Linked DNA regions of Homo sapiens: region 2 is linked to region 1. The links come from fine-mapping of genetic effects on gene expression. A gene starts in region 1. The other region holds a variant in brackets. All regions are shown on one strand. Distances are from middle to middle.

Region 1 (11,087 bases):
GGCCTTCACACGTGCTGTTGCCTGTGCCTAGAACTCCCTAACCCGAGTCCTGCACGCCTGGCTCCTTCTCAACCTCCAGGATTCATGCGAAGGTCATCTCCTCCTTCTGACCACCCAGAATTCAAAAGGACACTTTTCCTTTGCTCCTACAGTTAGAGCTTTATTTCTAGATTTTTTCTTGTCCTCTGTGTGGGGGAGACAGGATCTGTTCCCCGGTGTGCTCCAAAGCCTCTTGCAACACTGGACACAAAAGGCACTTTACATATCTGTTGGAAGGATGGAGGGATGTCTTCTCTCTGGACTCTGGGACCTCAAAAGATGGGTGCCCTGATGAGAAAACCTCAGAATTTTGTCTCTAAAGCCCAAATATGTGGCAGGATGACCACTCCCTCACTTTCTTAGTTTTTTTCTCCCCAAACAGAGGCAGCCCCAACCTCTGGTGACAGCAACTCTGGGTAAAGGCCAAGTTCCAGGAAGAAGTGACTTCTCAGAGACCAGGCCCTAACCCACAGGAATGTAGCCAGGGGCTCAGGTTTTATTGTTCAAGCAAGGTGGCAACGGTTAACTACTTCAGTGTGAGTTCTTAGAAAATTCTATGGGTTGGAATGCTAGCAAAATCAGCCCGTGCTAGGGGTCACCCAAAGTGGTTGGAGTCAGATGTTGAGGTGCAGCTAGTCTCTGAGCTCCTCGAGGACAGGCATAACCTTAATCTAGTGCTGTATTGTTGGTTCCCAGCACAGAGCCAGACACATAGCTGCTGTGCACAAATCCTGTTGTGATGAAATCAATAAATTTCATCGTGAGAACACGTGCTTTCTGCACATGGTAAGCCCTTTACACATTGTCTCCATTCATCTGTACAATAATTCTGTGAAGCAGATGTTCTTATCCCCATTTTGCAAAGGAGGAAATGGATGTTCAGAGAAAGCTAATTTGCCCAGGGTCACACAGCCAGTGAGGGGCAAGGCCTCTCCAAGTGGAAATCCCTCCCAATATTAAAACAATGGCCTGAAATGACAACTGCTGTTTCGGGGGCCAATAAATTAATGTCCTCCCCTTGAAGTACTGGTCCCCCCCATTCCCAGCCTCTCTGCCACCCAGGCACTGTCTCCTCTACCCCTCGCTGCTCTGGCCTTGCATGATTTTGGTCCTCTCTGCTTTCTGGGTTCTCCTCTTGCTTCTCCGATGGCTGTTGCTCCTTCCACTTCCTAAAGACAGGCGCTCCCCAACGCTTTTCCTTGGAGCTCTCTTTCTCCTTCTATGCCCTCTCTCTGGGCTTGCCTCTACAAACCGGCATGCCCAGCTTGGGCCTCTCCCAGGAGGTCCAGATCCACCCAGCCCCCGGGGTCTGCTGCTAGTTACACCTCTCAGAACGCAGGTCCTGCTCTGAAACCTTCAATGGCTCCCCAGGGCCCAGGAGAGCAGCAAACTGCTCCTCAAGGCATTCAAGGCTCTAGCACACCTGTCCCTGCTTCCCTTCCAATTCAGAGCCTTCATCCATCTGTGCTCTCTGCCTTTATCCTGCTGTCCGTTCAGCATGGCTGCCCTCCCTTTCCCTGCTGCTAAAGGGAGCTCTAACTTCCTGGTCTATGGCACATGTCCCTCGTCCATGAAGTCCTTCCTGACCCCCCTCCCCAGGTAGGTGTGGCTTCTCCCTCTCAGAAGACTCCTTGAAGACCCCATCCCAGCATTCCTTGGGTAAAACCTACTTCCGTGCTTGCTTTGACTCTCCTTCTACACTGGGTCAGAAAGGAAGCCCCACACTGCATCAAGGGACAATGGCTGTTCTGTATAATGTGGCTTCTTTGTCTAAAAGTCTCCCCAACTGTAGAATGAGATGGTAGAACTGGATCAGCATTTCCCAAATTTCTGTCATTCAAGTATCACCACTGTTGCTTTATTCTTGTACTACAGGTACTATCATACACTTACTATTTATCTACTCTTTTTTAAAAGAATATAAAAAGGAAACCATACATTGCTTACTGTGAGTGGAAAGTCAGTGTCACTTTTAATAAAAGTTGCAGTAATGAAAAGGTCATCATGAAAATAAACACATAACTGACAAAATAAGAAATGTCTGTGTAATGCCTCCAATCCTCCCAAGCATAATTCTGGGAAATAATCTACTAGATTGTCAGAGGCTTTGTCTAAGATAAACAAAGCTGAACAGTAGTTAAAATTGTAAGGACAGAATTTAATCAGTCATAACTATTGCAATAGGGAAAACAATCTAGTATGAACTGAGCTCAATATCGATTTGTACGAAAAGTAATTGGGCATTTTGAAAAGAACATGAGGGAATAGGGAGAAGGACAAGCAGCAGTTTAACAGAATCAGGGAAGTGAAAAATGACAAAGGGTTGGTCAGTGTAAGTGACATTAGGCCAGCTGTGTCTGCTAGCTGCCAATTGCCAAAGTTAGGATGCCGTTCTCCCAAAGAGACTGGGAGACAGAAGCTCTATCCTCAGGTGTTGGATGAAACAAAAACACAGTAAATATTTTGGCAGCCTTGAGTTTTCTCAGGCAGGCACTTTAAGAGGGGGTAGTGGGGCCAGGGTCACCTTAGGTAGGGGCCCCCAACTCCTAGGCTGCGGACCAGTACTGGTCTGTGGCCTGTCAGGAACCAAGCAGTGGCATTAGATTCTCACAGGAGCTTGAAATCTGCTGTGAACTGTGCATGCGGGGGATCTAGGTTGCATGCTCCTTATAAGAATCTAACGCCTGATGATCTAAGGTGGAACAGTTTCATCCTCCATTTTTTTTTCTTTTTTGAGATAGAGTCTTTCTCTGTTGCCCAGGCTGGCATGCAGTAGCACAGTCTCAGCTCACTGCAACCTCTGCCTCCCGGGTTTAAGTGATTCTCCTATTTCAGCCTCCTGAGTAGCTGGGATTACAGGCACGTGCCACCACACCTGGCTAATTTTTGTATTTTTAGTAGAGACGGGGTTTCACCATGTTGGCCAGGCTGGTCTCAAACTCTTGAGCTCAAGTGATCTGCCCACTTCGACCTCCCAAAGTGCTGGGATTACAGGCCTGAGCCACCACACCTGGCCAAAAATATCTGATTTTACTAGACAATCCTATTGTTATTTATTTTTTATTTTTTGAGACAGAGTCTTGCTCTGTCACCCAGGCTGGAGTGCAGTGGTGTGATCTCAGCTCACTGCAGCCTCTGCCTCCCGGGTTCAAGCGATTCTTGTGCCTCAGCCTCCTGAGTAGCTGGGATTACAGGCGAGCACCACCATCCCTGGCTAATTTTTGTATTTTTAGTAGAGATGGAGTTTCACCAAGTTGGCCAGACTGGTCTTGAACTCGTGGCCTCAAGTGATCTGCCCACCTCGGCGTCCCAAAGTGCTGGGATTACAGGTGTGAGCCACCACGCCAGGCCTTCATCATAGAATTATTGCCCACCCCCACCACCCTGTCCGTGACAAAATCGTCTTCCATGAAACTGGTCTCTGGTGCCAAAAAGCCTGGGAACTGGTGATCTTAAGGATGTGACGTTGAATTATTAGAAACTGTGTTGCTGTCTGTTCAGTCTTTATAGGCCAAGACTGAAGCCTAGTTGAGAAGAGGGCTCATAGGAGCCTGGCTAAGTTCCATCAAGAAGAGAATCACTATCAGCTTCTATACCTTAGCCCCTGCCCGCACCCCCCCACCCCCAAAAAGCATCAATATTGTGACTATATACCAGGTGTTTCACAAAGTTATGAAGTAGTTATAATTAATATCCTCATTAAAAGGTTAAGAAAACTGAGGCTCAGAAAGGTTAAGTTGTCTGCCCAAGGTTCCACAGCCAGAAGTAGCAGTGCTGGGATTTGAACCTAGGTCTAAGTCTCACTGGTTCCAGAATTCACTGTCGTCCAAAGTGCATAGCTCCATTCTATGTTTCTAGGCTCTGTCTTTAAGCCATCCCTCTCCTGCACATGCCCATTTTACGAATGCCTATGGTCCCGAGTACTAAATCTGGACAAGTATGTGACCCTGGGCAGTGGATCTCGGCTCTGGCTGTACCACCTGGGGAGCTTGAAAAACACTGATGCCTGGGCCTCACCCCTAGAAGCTCTAAGGTAACAGGTGTGGAGTGCAACCCAGAGGGATTTTTAGAAGATTCCAGGTGATCTCTGTCAGGAGCCAGGTTTGAGACCCACTGCGCTAGGAGTCTTCACAGTTATCATCCCATTTGATGCTTATAAGAGCCCTGTGAGAAAGGCAGGCAAGTGGCAATCCCCATGTCCTGCTGACGAAGAAAAGTGTTGAGATGCTAAGGCTCAGACAGTAAGATCTGGATAGAAAACAAAGTTTCTGACCTCTAGCTCTGAGTTCTCTGCCTAAAGGTTCTGCTCTACAAGGCATAATTTAAAAAAAAAAAAAGCAACATCTCCAAGAAGAGCAGCTTAATTTCTCTTGTACAGTACAAGTCACTTCTCACCCCCATGGAACACATGGAGGAGAGGTAGTACCTGCTTCAGCCACAGTACCCAAAACAAGGCCAGGGCATCCCAGGGAGGTGAGCAGTGACCCCCCTTTCTGACAAACTGTTCCCCTGGCAGAAGCCAAGGGAGGGCTAGGGGACAGGGGCCTGCAATTCTGTGATAGCGTTGGGGCCTGCTTTCCACGCCCACTTTTCTGCAACGGTTTGTGATCTGGACTCCCTGAGCACCCGTTGGGAGCTGGGGGCAGCCTAGGGAAGTCGGGACCTACTCCTGTACCCTTCCAAGGCAAGCATCCTGGGCCACCTAGCCGTTTCAGGGTCCAGGCCATGGGACCCCCTGTGCATAACACTGGGCCCAACAGCCTGGTCGGGCCCTGATGTTTGCTCACTGATGATGTGCAGAGGAGAGGGGGCAGTTTCCCACTTCTGGGAGAAGAGAGGGCACTGTCGGCCCTTGGCAGACTTGGGGGGCGTCACTGCCCATATGTGGGGGACGTCACTGCTCACCTTGAGGGACTTAAGGGTTCCCAGTGGTGGGCATTCGAGAGGATACTGTCCACATCTGGGGCCAGCAAAGGACCCCTGTACCTCAACTGGAAGGCCAGAGGTTCACCTCAGCCTTGCAGTCATGAGGCAGCAGAGGGCCCCTACCCACTCCAACCCCCTAAAAAATGCAACAATCCCAGGCACACCTTAGGCCGCAGCCTGGCTGTGACCGAACAGACGGCGGCCACACCCCCGGGGAGAGGCCGGGTGGGGACCGCAGGGCGCAGCTCTCCCAGTCCCACCCTTCGGCGCAGGGCTCCGGCCAACACAGCCCTCCAGGCCGCCTACTCTCCAGCCAGCCGGCTCCACGGACCCACGGAAGGGCAAGGGGGCGGCCTCGGGGCGGCGGGACAGTTGTCGGAGGGCGCCCTCCAGGCCCAAGCCGCCTTCTCCGGCCCCCGCCATGGCCCGGGGCGGCAGTCAGAGCTGGAGCTCCGGGGAATCAGACGGGCAGCCAAAGGAGCAGACGCCCGAGAAGCCCAGGTGAGCGGCTGGGCCGCGCCGGACGGGCGTCGGGGGTCTGGGCCGCGAACCCGCCGCGGGGCCGCCGGAACCTCCGCGAAGGTTCTAGGCCTTTGTGGCGTCACCGTCTCCTTGCGGAAGCTTCCGCCGGCGCCGAATAAAACCCGCCGCGGAGGAGCCGGTGGCTCTAGTGCGGTGGAGCCAGGCGTGGAAGTCGGTCCGGCGCGGGGCGGGGGGCGGGCGGGAGCTACAAGCGGCGGCGGCGGCGGCGACCGTGACCGTGACGCGCGAGCGGGCGGCGGGGGCGCGGGCCAGGGGCGCGGGCCAGGGTGCCGGCAGGGGCGTCCGGGGCGCTCTGACCGGCCTCGCCCGCCCCCCCCGCAGACACAAGATGGTGAAGGAGACCCAGTACTATGACATCCTGGGCGTGAAGCCCAGCGCGTCCCCGGAGGAGATCAAGAAGGCCTATCGGAAGCTGGCGCTCAAGTACCACCCGGACAAGAACCCGGATGAGGGCGAGAAGGTGCGGGGCGGCGCGGGGCACGGGCCGGGCTCCCGAGGGGCCAAGGGTTATTAAGCCAGGAGCATTGAAGGCGACGGGAAACCTGAGCCGCGTTTGTTGGGGAGGCTGTCGCCAGGCGCCTCGGGGCCAGGCCGGGCAGAGGTGGCGGGAGACCCTGGGCGCCGTGCGGCGCGGTCGGTGGAGGGCGCTTCGCCCGCGGAGGAGGCATGTGGTGCGGCACTTGGGTCCCTCGCGAGTCCCTGCCGAGCCCATTCATTCCTCCATTCGCTCCACAAGTGTTTGGGTAGCCCCTGCCGTGCGCGCCGGACTAGTTCTCATAGGGTGTGTTGGTTCCCTGTGGGAGAGGCGGCCTGGGAATCGGGAAACTGAGGCACACACAAACAGTTGTTTACTTGCTGGGAACGACTGGCTCATATTCTCTGTTGATGCATAAACCCTAGGGATGAGTGTCTTTAATCTGAGCTGGTACCTTGGACAAACGCCGTGCCTCTCTTGAGAATGACTAGCTGGATTTGTTCTGTGCACCTACTGCCTACCTGATAAAAGCGTCAGATAGTGAATAATCCCATTTTCTTTATTAAACAGGGACACGGACATCTGCAACCTGACATCAGCTTGTACTCATATTCTGGGTTTTCGGTGACAAGTGACACACAGTTGATCATAAGTACCAATCATAGACTGAAAATGCTCTGCATTTTAGAGACAGAAGTTAAAAGCTTTTCCATCCTGTTTACAGAAAGTTTGCTTTTTATCTCTAAAGAGGCTCATGACCCACCTGAATAGGTGAATTGAAGGATGAGGCATTGCAAGGAAAGGCTGCTAACCCTCCCGTTCCTCCTTTCACTTCTTGCCATTTTCTTACAAAACTTTGGTTGTTCCGCATGGGTCTTGAGAGGTGGGGCCGTTATAGTAGCTGATAGCAGTGTCACTTGGGCCACGTTTGAAACCACACCAATCACCCATGTAGCATTTAAGACCTGTGGAAACGACGCTGGAATCAAAATACCTGTCTGTGTTAGTTGTTCCAAGCTGGAGAAAGCTACTTCAGGACGGTTGGCTGAATGGCAACAGTGATGGAATATTTATATTTAGCCACATGTGCTGAATGTGGCTGTCACAAGTTTAAAATGCTTTCCTGTAAGACCATTTGTCTGTTACTCACTTGCGTTCTTTCTCATCTATATTTAGATGGCTTACTGTAGCTTTTAAAGGCACTGGCGTTTTACATGGTGCTGGTGATTCATCCACCTGCTCCCTACATTCATTGTGGTCCGCTTCTGACAGTCTCCTTTAAGGAGAGCTTGTAGGCTTCTAATTTCACATTTCAGCAAGCTGGCTAAAGACATGTGGGAAAGCCTGACCCTGGATTCAGGTCAAATCTCAGCACTCACAAGAGTAAGTTCATGCCTCTGTGTATACAGTTAGAGCTGAATATGCTTTTGTTCTGAAGCTTTTATTTTTAAAAAATTAGACTTGACCTGTACTACATATGTGTAGGTTTCACCCTGTCTATACCTGTCTGGGCAGGTTGTTTGGTTTGTTTTAAACTAATATTTATTCATAGCCAGGCACTGAGTTAGTGTCACATAAATGAGGCCCTTGGCAGTGAGGTCTGGCAGGCCCATCAGCTTGGAGGGAAGGGTTCTGTGATGTGCCCATTGCCAGGAATACTTTCCTTCCTCTACCTTCATGGAAGGGGATAAAACTCTTTAGTTCTCAGCTAAAACATCTTCCAGGAGGCTGCCTCTGCCTCATAGACTGAACCACAGGCCCAACGTGCATCCTACTTTAATGGTGATTACTTGTTTGATTAACTGTATTCCTTTAATGGTGATTACTTGTTTGATAACTGTATTACCTGCCATAATGTAAGCAGGGCAGTGACTGTGCCCCCATGGCCACTTATGGGGTGAGTATCTAGCTGTGCAGGGTAGGTGCTAAAATGTTTGTTAGCTGGCTGAGTAAATGCACTTTAAAAAATTGTGTGTAGGAGGAGAGGGCCCTATAAAGGCACAAATTGGAAGGGAAATTGCAGTGAAAGGGATATTGGGAGGAGAGTGGCAATTTAGATCGGAAATCAAAGAGGATGAGGAGACTGGGGACACAATTTATAGAAACGGCTGTAGAGTTCCCCAGAGAGAGCTCATTCATTCATTCATTCATTCATTCAACAAATACCTCCTCTTCTGGTCCCCACTGTGTGCTGGGTGCACTGTGCAGGCCTTTTGTGAGTGTGTATGTGAGTGTGTGTGTGAGTGTGTATGTGAGTGTGTGAGTGTGTGAGTGTGTGTGTGAGTGTGTATGTGAGTGTGTATGTGTGTGTAGTTCTTTTCCACTTTATCACAGGTAGAACCTTTAAATTTTTTTTTCCTCCTAAGTTCGTCACTGTATTATTAACGTCTCTTCAAAAATAGACTACACCAGTTCTTTACCCCTTGCTGGGAAAACTGAGAAGGCCGTTGAAATGTTGGTCTTTGTTTTTTGCCCTGTTGTCCCCTGTTGCTAAGCATTGGGGCACCTTGTGTTTTTTGGGCACTCTGTATGGAGTCTGTACTTCTCTGCGGGTGTTTTTTTTTTGTTTTTTGTTTTTTTTGCAAGATGCATGGGTGGTAGGTAGTGGGTCACCAAGATAGTCCCTTTTAGGGGCAATGATGTGGGGTATATTCTTGGCTATTACCCTGTTGAGATGAGTTTGGTCTTTTGGTCAATTTCATTGTAACTTTTAGTTTGAATAATAGACTTTCAAGTTCAAAAATCAGAACATAGCAAACCATGCAGAAAATTTTAGAACACAGAGGGAAACCTACCAAGTACACATTATCCTAACCACTCTGTGCTTCTTTCCAAGCTTTCCCCAGTATGATCATACATGGCCATCCTGATACATAGACATTTTGTTTTCTTGTTTCCACTTAATATTTTATTATAAGTACTTTTCCCAAGTTGTTACGTAGTCTTCAAAGCCATTTTCCCCTCAGCTGTATAGTAATCCTGTTAAGGTTCTGTGGCAAATGATCATGGTCTGAAAGGCAAGCTCATCATAGCACTCGTCTCCCACTGGGAGAAGGGGGTCCGGGCCGGGAGCTGAATTAGACTTTGGAGTGCTGGGACCCTAGAGGATGGACTCCCTACTGGTAGTTGGAACCCCCATCCCATGTGAGATCTGGCCTCTGACTGAATGTCCCAAGCAACTGGGTACTCCTTTTCCATTCTTAGATCATTCTATTAAGTCTAAATGACATGTGAGTATCCAGGGTATTTGGTGAGTGTTTCCGGTGGACGTTCCCATGAAGTTATTTACCTAGTCCTGACCTGCAGATAGACGCAGAAACTGTCTAGGGGCAGCCTGGCCTAGTTGCTTTCTGATCTGTACCAGGCACCCAATCCTTACACTCTACCTCATGTTTTCTGCTGAGGAAAGGGATAGTAGTGAATGGTACTTACTTCTTCGCAGAAATGGTATGAGAATTAACATATCAAAAGATCTAGCTGCCTTATATATGATGCTGATGTCTTTTTAAGACTTTTCTAAATTGTAGTTTTTTAGCTATTTATTAGCTATTATTATTGGTTACTTATTAGATTTCAATCAGGGATCTGTAGAACAAGGGAATTAATGCCTCAAATTCCCTTGTTCTCTCTCTCAAATTCCTTATTTCATGGCACTTTTTTTCCCTGAATATTTTTTGGAGCCAGCTGCATTATAGGATCTGTTTATCTATATATCCATATTTGTCTCTCCGACTAAACTGTAGCCTCTGGAGGGCCAAGATCCTACCTCATTTATTTATTTCTGAGTTCCCAGAATCGAGCCATTCATCTAACAGGTATTTACCAAGTGCCTTCTACATGCCAGGCATGGTTCCAGGCTCAGTTAGACAGCAGTGGACAAAACCCCCCATCTTCATGGAGCTTATGTTGCAGTGGGGGCTACAGCATAAGCAGTAGATGATGCAGCTTGTTAGAAGGTGGTTCATGATATGGAGAAATATGCAGCAGTTGTGGGGGCTGGGAGGGTCTGAGGTGGGTTTGCAGTGTTAAAGCTGGATCACCAGGAGGCATCCCTGAGAAGGTGGTCTGTGAGCTAAGGCTGGAAAGAGATGAGTCGGGAGGCCGCACCAGGCTGAGGTGCCTCTGAGGCCCAGACTGCAGAGTTGAGGAACAGCAGGGAGCCTGCTGAAACTGGCATAGAATTGGGGTGGGGACACACAGGAGGAGAGGAAAGTACAGGTGCCAAGTTGGGCTTATAGATGAAAGTTAGGACTGGCTTTTACTCCCAGTGACGTGGGCCACCTTGTAGAGGTTTGAGCAGAGGATCGACCCAATTAGTGGGCTCGAGTGGAGAACACACTGAAAGCTGGGGTGAGGAGGGCACATGGAAGACCACGGAGGAGGCCACTGCAGTGGTCCAGGCCTGAGATGGTGCCTTCAGCCAGAGTGGATGTGGTGTGGTAAGAAGGAACAGATCTTGCATGTTTTCGCATTCTGATTTTATTTTAAAAATGTCCATATACCTGCAGAAAACATGAGTGATACAATGAACACCTATGTATTCTTCACCTAGCTTTACCAGTTATAAATAAGTTGTCACATTTGTTTTATCTATTATTATTATTACTGTTGGCTAAAGATTTTGGGAGGAAGCTACCTATAGCATAACCTTTCAGCCCTAAGTGCTGCGTGTTTCTCTTGGGCACAAGGACATCCTTGTACATAACCATAGTAAAGTTATCAAATTCAAGAAGTTTAACATTGGGAACAAAGATTCACATTTCTCCCATTGTTCCAATAATGTCCTTTGTAGCCATTTTTTTTTTTCTCCCCTGTGCAGGATCTGATCCAGGATCACACATTGTATTCGTTTTTTTCTATCTTTTAATTTTAGAGTATCTCTCAATTTGGGTTTTCTGATTCTTTTCGTACAATTGGGTTCCAGTGGTAACTTTTTGGCAGGAATGCTACACATGGGATATTGTGTCTGTCTTAGGGTACTGGAGATGCAAATGTGAAGGTAGCATCAGTGGGATTTGTTGACAGGTGAGATTGGCATTGCCAATAACTGTGATATGGGGAAGACTATGGGTGGGGCGGGGCTTTTGGGGGAGGATCAGGAGTA
Region 2 (11,087 bases), 320 kb before region 1:
TTTAGTACCTGGCTGCAGAGCAGCCGCAACTTCACAGAGGACTGGAAGGGAAGTCCTTACATCAGCCAGGCTGGCAAACCTCACCCCTCCTTCCTGGGGACTGGCTCAGAGCAGGCCAGCCACTGATCAAGGTCACAAAGCATGGTAGCACAGGCTGAGAGCACTGAGGCCCTAACCCCAGAGAAACCTCATCATCATCTACACCCACAATCCCCACCCCCAACACCCCTCCTCCACTCAGACTACACCCTGTGCACTCAACCATCTTGGCCAGCGTGCTGATCTCTGCCAGCACCCAGTCGGGACAGTCCAGATCACCACAGAACCAGAACCTCTGCAAGGGAGGGAGTCAGGTAATCAGGCTGGAGGGAAGGCTGAGGTGTGGCCAGGATCTGTGTGTCTCCCACACTGCTGCCCAGCAAGGACCCCTGGTCCCCATCATAGATGGACACCCTCTGGCCATTTGTTCTCCCCTATCACCAGGCTATTGAGTAAACTCTCTCCCTGACCCACCCTGCCACCAAACCCTGCTCTTTGGTCTACTCCAGGCATTCATCTGCTCAGCAAACATCAATTGAGCACCTTTCTTTGTGCTAGCTCCCACTCTAAGAGCTGGGGGTACAGCAGGAGATAAAACAAAGTCCTGTGCCTCACACAGATGAGTGACCTCTCTCCCCTCTTCCCCATACCCACACAAGTCCAGCCACTCCGGCTTCCCTGCTGCTGCTCCGGGACACCAGCCTTGCTCCCGCCTCCATGCCTGCTGCACTCTCTACGTGGCTTGCTATCCTTTATTTCATTCCACTCTCTGCTCAAGTGACACCTCATCAGACCAGCCCCTCTTTTTTTTTTTTTTTTTTAAAGATGGAGTCTCGCTCTGTTGCCCAGGCTGGAGTGCAATGGCACAATCCACAATCTTGGCTCACTGCAACCTCCGCCTCCCAGCTTCAAGCAGTTCTCCTGCCTCAGCCTCCCAAGTAGCTGAGACTACAGGCATGTGCCACCACACCCGGCTTTTTTGTATTTTTAGTAGAGACAGGGTTTCACCACGTTGGCCATGCTGGTCTTGAACTCCTGACCTCAGGTCATCTGCACACTTCGGCCCCTCAAAGTGCTGGGATTACAGGCGTGAGCCACTGTACCCAGCCAGGCCCGCCCTTCTTGATGATACTTCCTAAAATAGCCCCTCACACAAGGAAATTTTGGGGGCCGGTGGATATTTCATTATCTTGATTGTGGTGATCCAACAGTCAGGAAGATTTGGTCTTTACTTGTCCAGCCTCATCCTTCCCTAACCTGCAGATAATACTCTCTCAGCTATGGGAAATGCATTCATTCCTGGGGAGTCATGCTCTCTCTAACCTGAAGTCTCTGCACATGCTGTTCCCTGTCTGAAGACACACGCCTCCCACCCTTGCCTCCCAACCCCTGGTACACAAACTGTACTTCAGCCAGCCAGCTCCTGCCATCCATCCGCCTTTAAGGTTGAAGGCATCCTCAGGAAGCCCCCTTAGCACTACACACAAGGCGCAGTTAGGTCTCTGCCCCTGGAGCCTTGACTATGACTCCAATTCAAGGCTCCGATTTCCCCTTCCCTCAGCAGCTCAGGTCCTCCCAGTGCCTAGCACACTTCATGGTATAGACTAGGCGCTTAGAACGTAGGGATGGATGGACTGGATGGATGGATGGATAAGTCTCAACCCCAAAACTACTACTTTCTGACTCTGGAAACAGCGGAGGGGCTGCCTAACAGTGTGGAAGTGTGATCCTAATTCTAAGCGCGTTCTTGTCTAAGTCCCACAGCAGGGCTGGGGAAGGGAGTGTCCTTGGGAGGTCCTCTTGTGGCTGGGGAAGACCCGAAAGGACTCCCAGCTCCAGACAAGCCCTAGTTCCTGCCCCGGGAGGCAGGGGCCCTTCCTTTCCCCAGGGAAGCACGGGGACTCTAAGCCGGCCGGCCTGCGCTGTCTTACCCGCCCCGTACCCCCGCCCCTGTCTCGGGAGCGGAGTAGCGGTGGACTTTTCTCACGCCCGCACACACTGTTTGCGGAGAGGCCAGGGCAGACAACCTCCACCCGTTTCCGGAGCCACTGGCGCCCCCTCATTCCCGCTCCAGCAGCCCATGCCTCGCTTCACCCCTGGTGCCTCATCATCGCACCAGGAAGCCAGGGCCCGGGAATTTCTTTTTCCGGTCCGACAGGGTCAACTGAGTCGACGATCACTTGACTTGGACTAACGGCCTCTGGGAGGGCGGGGCCTGCTCGAGTGAGGCCGGGAGCGGACCGCAGCCCGCTGGAGGTGCCGGGGGCGAAATGCTGGCGTCTCCTCCTCCGTCTCCCAGAATCCTTCCCTGGAAAAAAACAGCATCCACCGTCAGTTTAACTGAGGACCGAATTAAGGCATTAGGAAAGACAGTGGAAGTTATTTCATTTGTTTAACTTAAGGGGGTAGGATCCCGGGAGCCAGGGGGATTCAGGTCATTGTCATGTTTTCCACTGTTAAGCGAATAGCATTATACACAGCTGCGGACTGTGGCAAAAGACATTTTAAAAACTATTGAAGTCTACTACACATACAGAAAATTGTACCTATTAGAAATATAAAGCTTAATAAGTTTTCATCAACTGTACACCTCACATAACCAGCACCCAGATAAGGAAATAACCAGATAACTTCTTCAAGCGCATGGGTATTTTATTTCATTTTGATGAATCGTCTAGGTGCCTAACAAAAAGGGCTGTCATAATTAACATGCTCAGGAAAACTCCCTACAGCTTCAACATCAACAGATGCTTAATTTTTGCCAGTCTGATGGGGGAAAAAATCGGTTGCTTAGGTTGCAGTGGTAGTCTGCTTACTGGTAGCTCTGAGCTAATGGTAGCCTGGAACAACTAAGTTTCCGACATTGACTTGCAGAGGCAAAAACAAAAAGACAAAACAACAACAAAAATACATCAGAGAATAAACTAATAACCAAAGAAGAAACTGAAGACAGTCATCCCTTAGTAACTTCAGGATATTGGTTCCGGGACCCCAGAGATACCAAAATTCACTGATGCTCAAGGCCCTGATATAATATGGCATAGTATTTGCATATAACCTATGCACATCCTTCCGTATATTTTAAATCATCTCTAGATTACTATAATACCTAATACAATGTAAGTGCTTTGTAAGTACCTGTTATAAAGTATTTATAACTTTTTGCTTTTTATTGTTTTACTTTTTCCAAATATTTTTGATGCACAGTTGGTTAAATCCAAGGATCTTGAACCCGAGGATGCAGAGGGCTGACCGTAGTTTGAACTCTCTCCTCAATTCCATGCCTATCCCATGCACCAGGTGCAGCTGGTTTTATTGCTGCAGGCTTTCAAGTTTTCAAAAGACAGCTCATGGCAAGTAAACTGCTCTATAGAATAGAAAGAAATGGAAAGTGTCCCAATTCATGGTAAAATTGAGCTCATTTCTGAAGAGTTCTTTTACAAGTCATAAGCACTAGCCTGTTGAAAACCACAGTATGTTAAGTTACTAGACTATCCTATACCATGTCAAAGAAAAACTTTAAGGACATAAGACCTGTAATCATAACACTTTGGGAGGCTAAGGCCGGTGGGTCGCTTGAGCCCACGAGTTCTAGACCAGCTTGGGCAACATAGGGAGACCCCGGTCTCTACAAAAAATTAGCTGCTTCTGCTGGTGCACACGTGTCGTCGCAGCTACCTAAGAGGCTGAGGTGGGAGGATCTCTTGAGCATGGGAGGTGGAGGCTGCAGTGAGCCATGATGTCGCCACTATACTCCATCCAGCCTGAGCAACAGAAGGAGACCGTCTCAGAAAAAAGAAAAAAAAATGGCTGGGCGCAGTGGCTCATGCCTGTAATCCTAGCACTTTGGGAGGCTGAGGCAGGCAGATCACTTGAGGTCAGGAGTTGGAGACCAGCCTGGCCAACATGGCAAAACCTGTCTCTACTAAAAAAAAAAAAAACAAATGAATTGGGCGTGGTGGCGGGTGCCTGTAATCCCAGCTACTCGGGAGGCTGAGGCACGAGAATCGCTTGAACCCGGGAGATGGAGGCTGCAGTGAGCCGAGATTGCACCGCTGCATTTCAGTCAGCTTGAGCAACAGGGTGAGACTCCGTCTCAAAAAAAAAAAAGGTAACTTTTACTTCATCCTATCAATAGGTTAAAGAAGAGTAAAATGGACAGATTTGGAAAACCATTTTTTATTTAAAAAGAGAAAATTAGGAACAGATGAAAACTGTCTTAAGAGTATTTGAGAAACAAAACAGCAAATTTAACATCAGACAAAATATCTAAATTGAGAAATAAAGTTAAAAGGTGGATGGTGTGCCCTTTTAATGTCATACTGGAGCATTGTTTCATAGATACTTGTTTTACTATTAAAGATTGACTATTTAGAGCAGTGGTCCTCACACATTAGAGTGCATCATCATCCCCTGCAGGGCTTGTGAAAC[C/T]GGCTGCTGGGCCTCACACCAGAGTTTCTAACTCAGTAGGACTGAGGGGGGGCCTAAGCACTGCATGTCTATGTTCCCAGGTGACGCTGATGCTTCCAATTTGAGACCATGCTTTGAAAAGCAGTAGTGTAGGGAAATATACTACAGAATATGTTGTGAATATACTGGAGAATATGTATATATGTTAACTTACAGAATTCTGTCCAGTAGAAAAGATAACTCCCAAAGATGACATTTTTATTTCCCAATATGATTTTTTTTTAAGTCAGAATCTTGCTCTGTCGCCCAGGCTAGAGTGCAGTGGCATGATCTCGGCTCACTGCAGCCTCCACCTCCCGGGTTCAAGTGATTCTCCTGCCTCAGCCTCCCAAGTAGCTGGGACTACAAGCGCCCAGCACCGCACCTCGCTAATTTTTGTATTTTTAGTAGAGACGGGGTTTCACCATGTTGGCCAGGCTGGTCTTGAACTCCTGACCTCAGGTGATCCACCCACCTCGGCCTCCCAAAGTGCTGGGATTACAGGTGTGAGCCACCATGCCCAGCCTGCCTATAGGATATTAACAAGTTTTGTCTCTATCTCAGAATGCATTTCAGAATGCCCTTCCTGGAGCACTACAGACACTGTCTCTCAAAACGCTCCTCTAACTAGCTTCACCGTGTTGCTGACTCCCTTGTAAATTAAAGAAAATATCTTATACATATTCCTTCATTATCTGTATGAAAGTCAAGCTTTTCACATTGTGAAAATTATACTTCAGGCTGGATGCAGTGGCTCACGCCTGGAATCCCAGCACTTCGGGAAGTCGTATTGATGGGATCACTTGAGGCCAGGCATTTGACACCAGCCTGGCCAACATGTTGAACCCCATATGTACTCAAAAAAAAAAAATCAAAATTAGCTGGGTGTGGTGGCACACACCTGTAGTTCCAGCTACTTGAGAGGTGGAGGCACAAAAATTGATTGAACCTGTGAGGCAGAGGTTGCCATGAGCTGAGATCGTGTCACTGCACTCCAGCCAGAGCCAGAGCGAGACTCTGTCTCAAAGAAAAAATAAAATAAAAGAAAGAAAATTATACTTCGATACAGTATGCTAATATAAAGGATATGATATTGTTTGGCTCTGTGTCCCCATCCAAACCTCACCTTGAATTGCAATAATCCCCACGTGTCAAGGGTGGGACCAGGTGGAGATAATTGAATCATGGGGGCAGTTTCTCCCGTGCTGTTCTCGTGATAGTGAGTGAGTTCTCACGAGATCTGTTGGTTTTATTATAGGCTTTCCCCTTTGCTCGGCTCTCCTTCTCTCTCCTGCTGCCCTGGGAAGAGGTGTCTTCTGCCATAATTGTAAGTTTCCTGAGGCCTCCCCGGCCATGCAGAACTGTGAGTCAATTTAAACCTCTTTTCTTTATAAACTACCCAGTCTTGGGTATTTCTTCATAGCAGCATGAGAATGGACTAATACAGTGTACTAATAACAGCCCAGACAGTAGTATACAGGTACTACTATACTTTGATGCTAGAGGTATTCCCATTAAGGTCAGGAGCAGTATGCGCTATCATTACCATGATCTAACATTGTTCCAGAGGGTTTTAGGTCAGCAGTTCTCAACTGGAGGTGATTTTGCCGCCCTGGGGATATTTGACAGTATCTGAAATCACTTTGGCTGTCACACTGAGGAGTGCTGCTGGCATGTGGCAGGCGGAGGCTGGGGATGCTGCTAAACATCCTGCGAGGCGCAAACAGCTCCAGAACAGAGAACTGTCCAGCCCTAAACATCAACAGTGCTGCTGTGGAGAAAGCCTGGTCTAGACAAATAAAACATGGGAAATCCATTAACATACATGTGGGTGGATAATCAACTGGCATTTGCCAATGGCAGTCTAGCTAGGAGGTCCAAAAGGAGCACCTGAAGGACAGTTAGATTTTGCAGGGGCTGCATGGTGGCTCATGCCTGCAACCCCAGTGCATTGTGAGGTCGCATTGGGAATATCTCTTGAGGCCAGGCGTTCAAGACCAGCGTGGGAAACATAGACTGCATCTCTACCAAAAATAAAAAAATTAACCAGATGTGGTGCTGCGCTCTGAGAGTCCCAGCTGCTAAGGTGGGAGTATCGCTTGAGCCCGGGAGCTGGAGGCTACAGTGAGCTGTGATCATGCCACTGTACTCAAAAAAAATTTTTTTGAGACAGCGTTTTTCTCTGTTGCATATGGGGTCTTGCTGTGTTGCCCAGGCTGGTCTCAAACTCCTAACCTCAAGCAGTCTTCCTCCCTCCGCCTCTGAAAATGTTGAGATTACAGGTGTGAGCCACTCCCCCAGCCTTAAAAAATAAAAATAAAAAATTACAAGGTATTATGTGGCCCATTGAAAGATGTTGGAAAACAGTTGTGCATGTGACCCAGCTGTAACCAGTTATAAAAGTGTCAGGATCATTAAGAAATGTACTGTGTCTGGCTTTCCCAAGTTTGGGTTCCTGCTGAAGGAATGAGATGGACCTTTTCTTCCTCCCCTCCTCACCTCCCTGCAAGAACCAGGATTGTGCATTTTGACGGGCAGGCTCTTACCTCTGACAGGCCACAGGGGGCATGCAGAGCCTTTCTGCATGTGCTTTTTGGGCACTCGGATAAAGACCCCCTGTCCAGGCCTTTGTTTAGGATATTTGGCCCATGGAGAAATGAGGCTGGAATCACCTGGGAGGGATAGAGGCTTCAACTGGAAGGAGGAGTGACCTGAACTCCAGGTTGTGGGCCTACGCTTTGTTCCCATGCAGCACCTCGTTAGTGGTGACTGAGGCCTGGAAGTCAGGGGCCTTGGTGACCAAGTGTTGAGTGGACAGGAGGAGCTAAGGGAGGTGAGGGGCATCTCTCCAGTACTGACCCCTCCCCATGCCCAAATCAATGCCCTCTATCAGCTCAGACACAGCCCCACCCAGCAGCAGTGCGGGTCAGGAAGGGCAAATGCAGTCGGCACGGATCTGCTCCATAGTCTCCACCTCACTTCGTCTCGGGTTGAGGGGAGTGAGTCCCCACAGCACTGATATGATATCCTGTCAGCTGAGAACATCCAGCTTGATTTAGACAGATAAGGTGGGACATCTCTAGGGCATGGTGTGTGGAGCAGTGCCATCCCTCTGTGGCAGCGAGCCAAGCAATAAACCAGAATGTGCAAAACCTGCGTCCCAGAATCACCATTCCTGGAGGAAAAGCCTATATTGTCAAGATGCCCACAACTAAATTAACCCAAACATTCCACCCAGCCTCGAAAAACCAGTAGAACTTTGACATTAATACACTAACCCTCAGTTCTATACGGAAATGTGTAAGAATAGCCAAATAATGTAACGTGCGGTCATTGAGAGAGAGAAGCCCGTCAGAACAAATGGAACCAAGTCCAGAAACATGTTTGTCTAGGCGCAAGATGCCAGCATGTGTGTCAGCCAGGGAAGCAGACCAGGAGGAGATATTAAGATTTAAAACCCAGCTCTGTAGCTCAGGCCTATAATTTGAGCGCTTTGGGAGGCTGAGGTGGGAGAATCACTTGAGCCCAGGAGTTTGAGGCAGCAGTAAGCTATGATCGTGCCACTGCATTCCAGCCTGGATGACAGAGCAAGACCCCATCTCAAAAAAAAAAAAAAAAGTGCTCAGATGCACCCTTACATGAAGCCACCTTTGGCACAGCTTCCAAGACTGGCCAGGCCTCACTCAGGACCATGGGTCCCAGCCATAGCTCAGTTTCCACTGCCTGAGTGGCACAGAGTCCTCAGTCCAGTCTCTATTGGGTCTCAGATCCCCCGATCATGCCCCTTCTGCCCAACCTCTGCCCCATTATGGCCTCCACTGACCACAGCCTCTTCCACCTTCCCAAAGGGACCACTGCTCATGTTCTCCAGCCCACAGGAGTGCCTGCTTCTCCAGGCAGCCCACCCTGCTAGCTCTGGGCTCTATGTAGAAGAGCTGGGAAGGCTGGATCCCGCCACTGAGTTCAGTCTCGGGGGTCTCCACCCATGCTAGGCTTCCACTGATGGGACATAAGTGGCCTGAGGGTTGTTTACATCCACACAAGAGCCCCATGGTGACCAGGAATGGGGTTCTGAGAGGTTACATGACTTGCCCAGGGTCCCAGAGCTGGCTAGAATTCCTGCACTGCCACATTTGGGCCTCCCAGTTGGGGGTCCGGACACCCCTCTGCATCTACCAGGCTGAGAAACACGTGTCTGCTGCAGCTTCCTCCCAGTGACTTATAGCAGCTGCAAATTTTTGGGGGGCCTTCTACGGGGCCCACCACAGCAGGGAGCCAAGAACTCTTAACAGAGCCCTGTGTTCTCTCTCCGCCCCCTTCAGCTCCGAACTCATGTACTAGCTGCTCTGATGTAAAAACAGACCTTGGTGAGGATGTTGGGACTCTGGCCAGTAGCCCAGGCCTTCAGGAATCAGGTGATGTCAATCTGGAGAGGAGGTGCCTGCTGCGGGGAGCAAGCATGGGCCAGGGTCCTGGCCCCCTGCAGGGGTAGCCCCTCTTCCTTCCCATGGTCCCATCTGAAGGCATCCAGGGTAGAGTGCAGTGTTCAGCTGTGTCCTGGGGTCCAGGAAAGCCAAGGAGAAGTTGCTCCACCTGCTGTCCACCAGGTACCCCAGCAGAGAACAGCCTCAGCCCACCCCAGCCCAGCACCAGATCCCAGGGACTGATCCACCTGTAAGAGGGCAGCATGGGACTGCCCCCATTGCCCCCAGAGAGTCCCCTCAGTCATGGGCTCTGACCAGGGTGCAGGTGGGCCCAGCAGGCTGGCCCAGCATGGGTGTGGCTGCCCATTGGTCCTCTGAAGAGCCTCAGGGGCTTGTGGCAGCAGGTGTATGTCTGGGCTTGGAAGCAGAGGATGTCCCGCAGCCAGAAGGCAGGGGGCACTTGTTTTGCATTCCAGTCCTCTGCAAGGACAGGGACCCCAGGCTCTGGGCACCCCAGCTCTGCCCACCCTACACCCACAGCCTACCACCATTTGGCCCAGGCAAGTTGCCCCAGCTCCCACAGAGGGAGCCACCCTTCCCACCTCCTGATGTTTGCCCACCCCAGTCAAGTTCCATTCTGGAAAAACCCTCCACATCCTTGGGAAGGCACCTCCTCCTTGACTCCTTTCCAGTGCTATCATCCCCACGTTCATTTTCTACCTATCATTGGATGCAGAGACCCGCTTCTTCCCTGGGCCAGGGCTGCTCTGGAGGCAGGGAGGTTGTGACCAGGCTGTGGGGTATAGCAGAGCACCGGGTATAGACCAGACTCCCCAGGCACACCTGGGCAGAGAAGTCAGAGACCCACAGGTGAATGCCCCTCTTTCCAGCCCCACCCACCTCACAGGCAGAAAGAGGGAGGCTTCACAAGGAGGTTGAGGTAAATAGGGAGCCCGGGTCACCTCTGTCTGATCTCCTGCCCTCCTGGGACAAAGCCAGAGGTTGGAGCTGGGAGGTGTTGAGAGCCCTGGCCCAGCCCTGGTTTCACTGATGAGGCTCAGGGAGGGGCTGGGTCAGCCTAAGTCACTGGGTCCATAAGGAAGGGCCCTTTCCATAACCCAGGACCCTAGAGCTAGCCGAGGCCACATCCCTTTCCCACGTAGACCAAGTAGGGGCATGAACTGGCTTCTGGCTTCTAAGGCCGAGGCCCAGCACACCTCTCCCTCCCCTTGCCTGCAGCTGTTGTCACACATCAAAAGTGCTTTTTTTCCCCCAAGGTGCTGGAGGCGCAGCTCCTTGGGCTGGACCAGGTGGCCAATCCAAACAAGTCCTTGTGTGTCCCCCACCAGCCAGGAATTCTCATGCCATGCAGCAGCTGGGGGCACTAGGATACCCTGGGGGATTCCAGGGATGAGCCCTCCCTGAGGCTCCTACAGCAGCACTGCCACCCCCAGACCTGCCACCAGCTCCGTTTCCATGCAGCCTTCAAGAACCTGGCCCCTCACACACACCTGCCCCACTCCTCACACCTGGCTTTCCTGTGAAACGTGGAACTGGTTCCACCTGGGCCAGCTGGAGAAGGGCCTCAGGAAATCACCATTTAGGGGGTTCGTTCCAATCATTCATTCATTTATTCACCAAATACCCACTGTCCACCTTTCTGTACCAGGCCAGAGGTGATGGGTCAAGCAGAACACATGTCCCAAGGAGCTTTCCTCTCTTTAGAGACAGGCAGGTGGACTCTCACACCATGAGGTGCCCTCTGGGCTAGGGGGTGCCCAGGGCTGGATGCAGGGGCGGCCCTCGCCCACAGGAGGTGCTGGTGGGTACTGACGTGGAGGCCACCAGGGGGTGAGGGTGTCCAGACAGAGGACCTAGCATGTGCCCAGGCCCAGGGTGTGACCGGGGGCAGGTGCAGGGCTGCTGTATCTGGAAGGCTTCCTGGCTCTGCCAATGATAGGCTGTGGCTGGATCAGGCTTCATGTCAATTTTTAACATTTAATAAATTTTGATTATGTAACTAAACATTGTGATAAAAATTGTGAAATATAAAAGCTAAAAACACAAAAACCAGCAAACCCCTTCTCTCCCCAAGTAACTACTTCAACAGTATTTTCAGACTTTTTTTCTCATGTATCTGCAGCTATAAACATAAGCTGCACAAGATAGTATCCT

Evidence for each region. PIP is the estimated chance that this variant, and not a neighbour inherited with it, causes the effect.
Region 2: its variant is the best candidate, but not a certain one, in a credible set for the expression of DNAJA4 in whole blood (TOPMed, PIP 0.68).

What each region holds. Positions count from the first base shown.
Region 1 is chr15:78,258,928-78,270,014 of GRCh38, forward strand. DNAJA4 (DnaJ heat shock protein family (Hsp40) member A4) reads left to right here and starts at 5,635. Exons shown (of 7, transcript NM_001130182.2): 1 at 5,635-5,968. The coding sequence starts at 5,837. DNAJA4-DT (DNAJA4 divergent transcript) reads right to left here and starts at 5,217. Exons shown (of 4, transcript XR_001751621.1): 1 at 5,130-5,217; 2 at 4,945-5,030. RefSeq lists silencers at 5,489-5,568, 5,879-6,168.
Region 2 is chr15:77,942,413-77,953,499 of GRCh38, forward strand. It overlaps the pseudogene COMMD4P1. Among named protein-coding and RNA genes, the nearest start is that of TBC1D2B, 130 kb to the right of the region's middle. RefSeq lists enhancers at 2,015-2,309, 9,237-9,737. The variant C/T (reference allele first, on the strand shown) is at 4,471.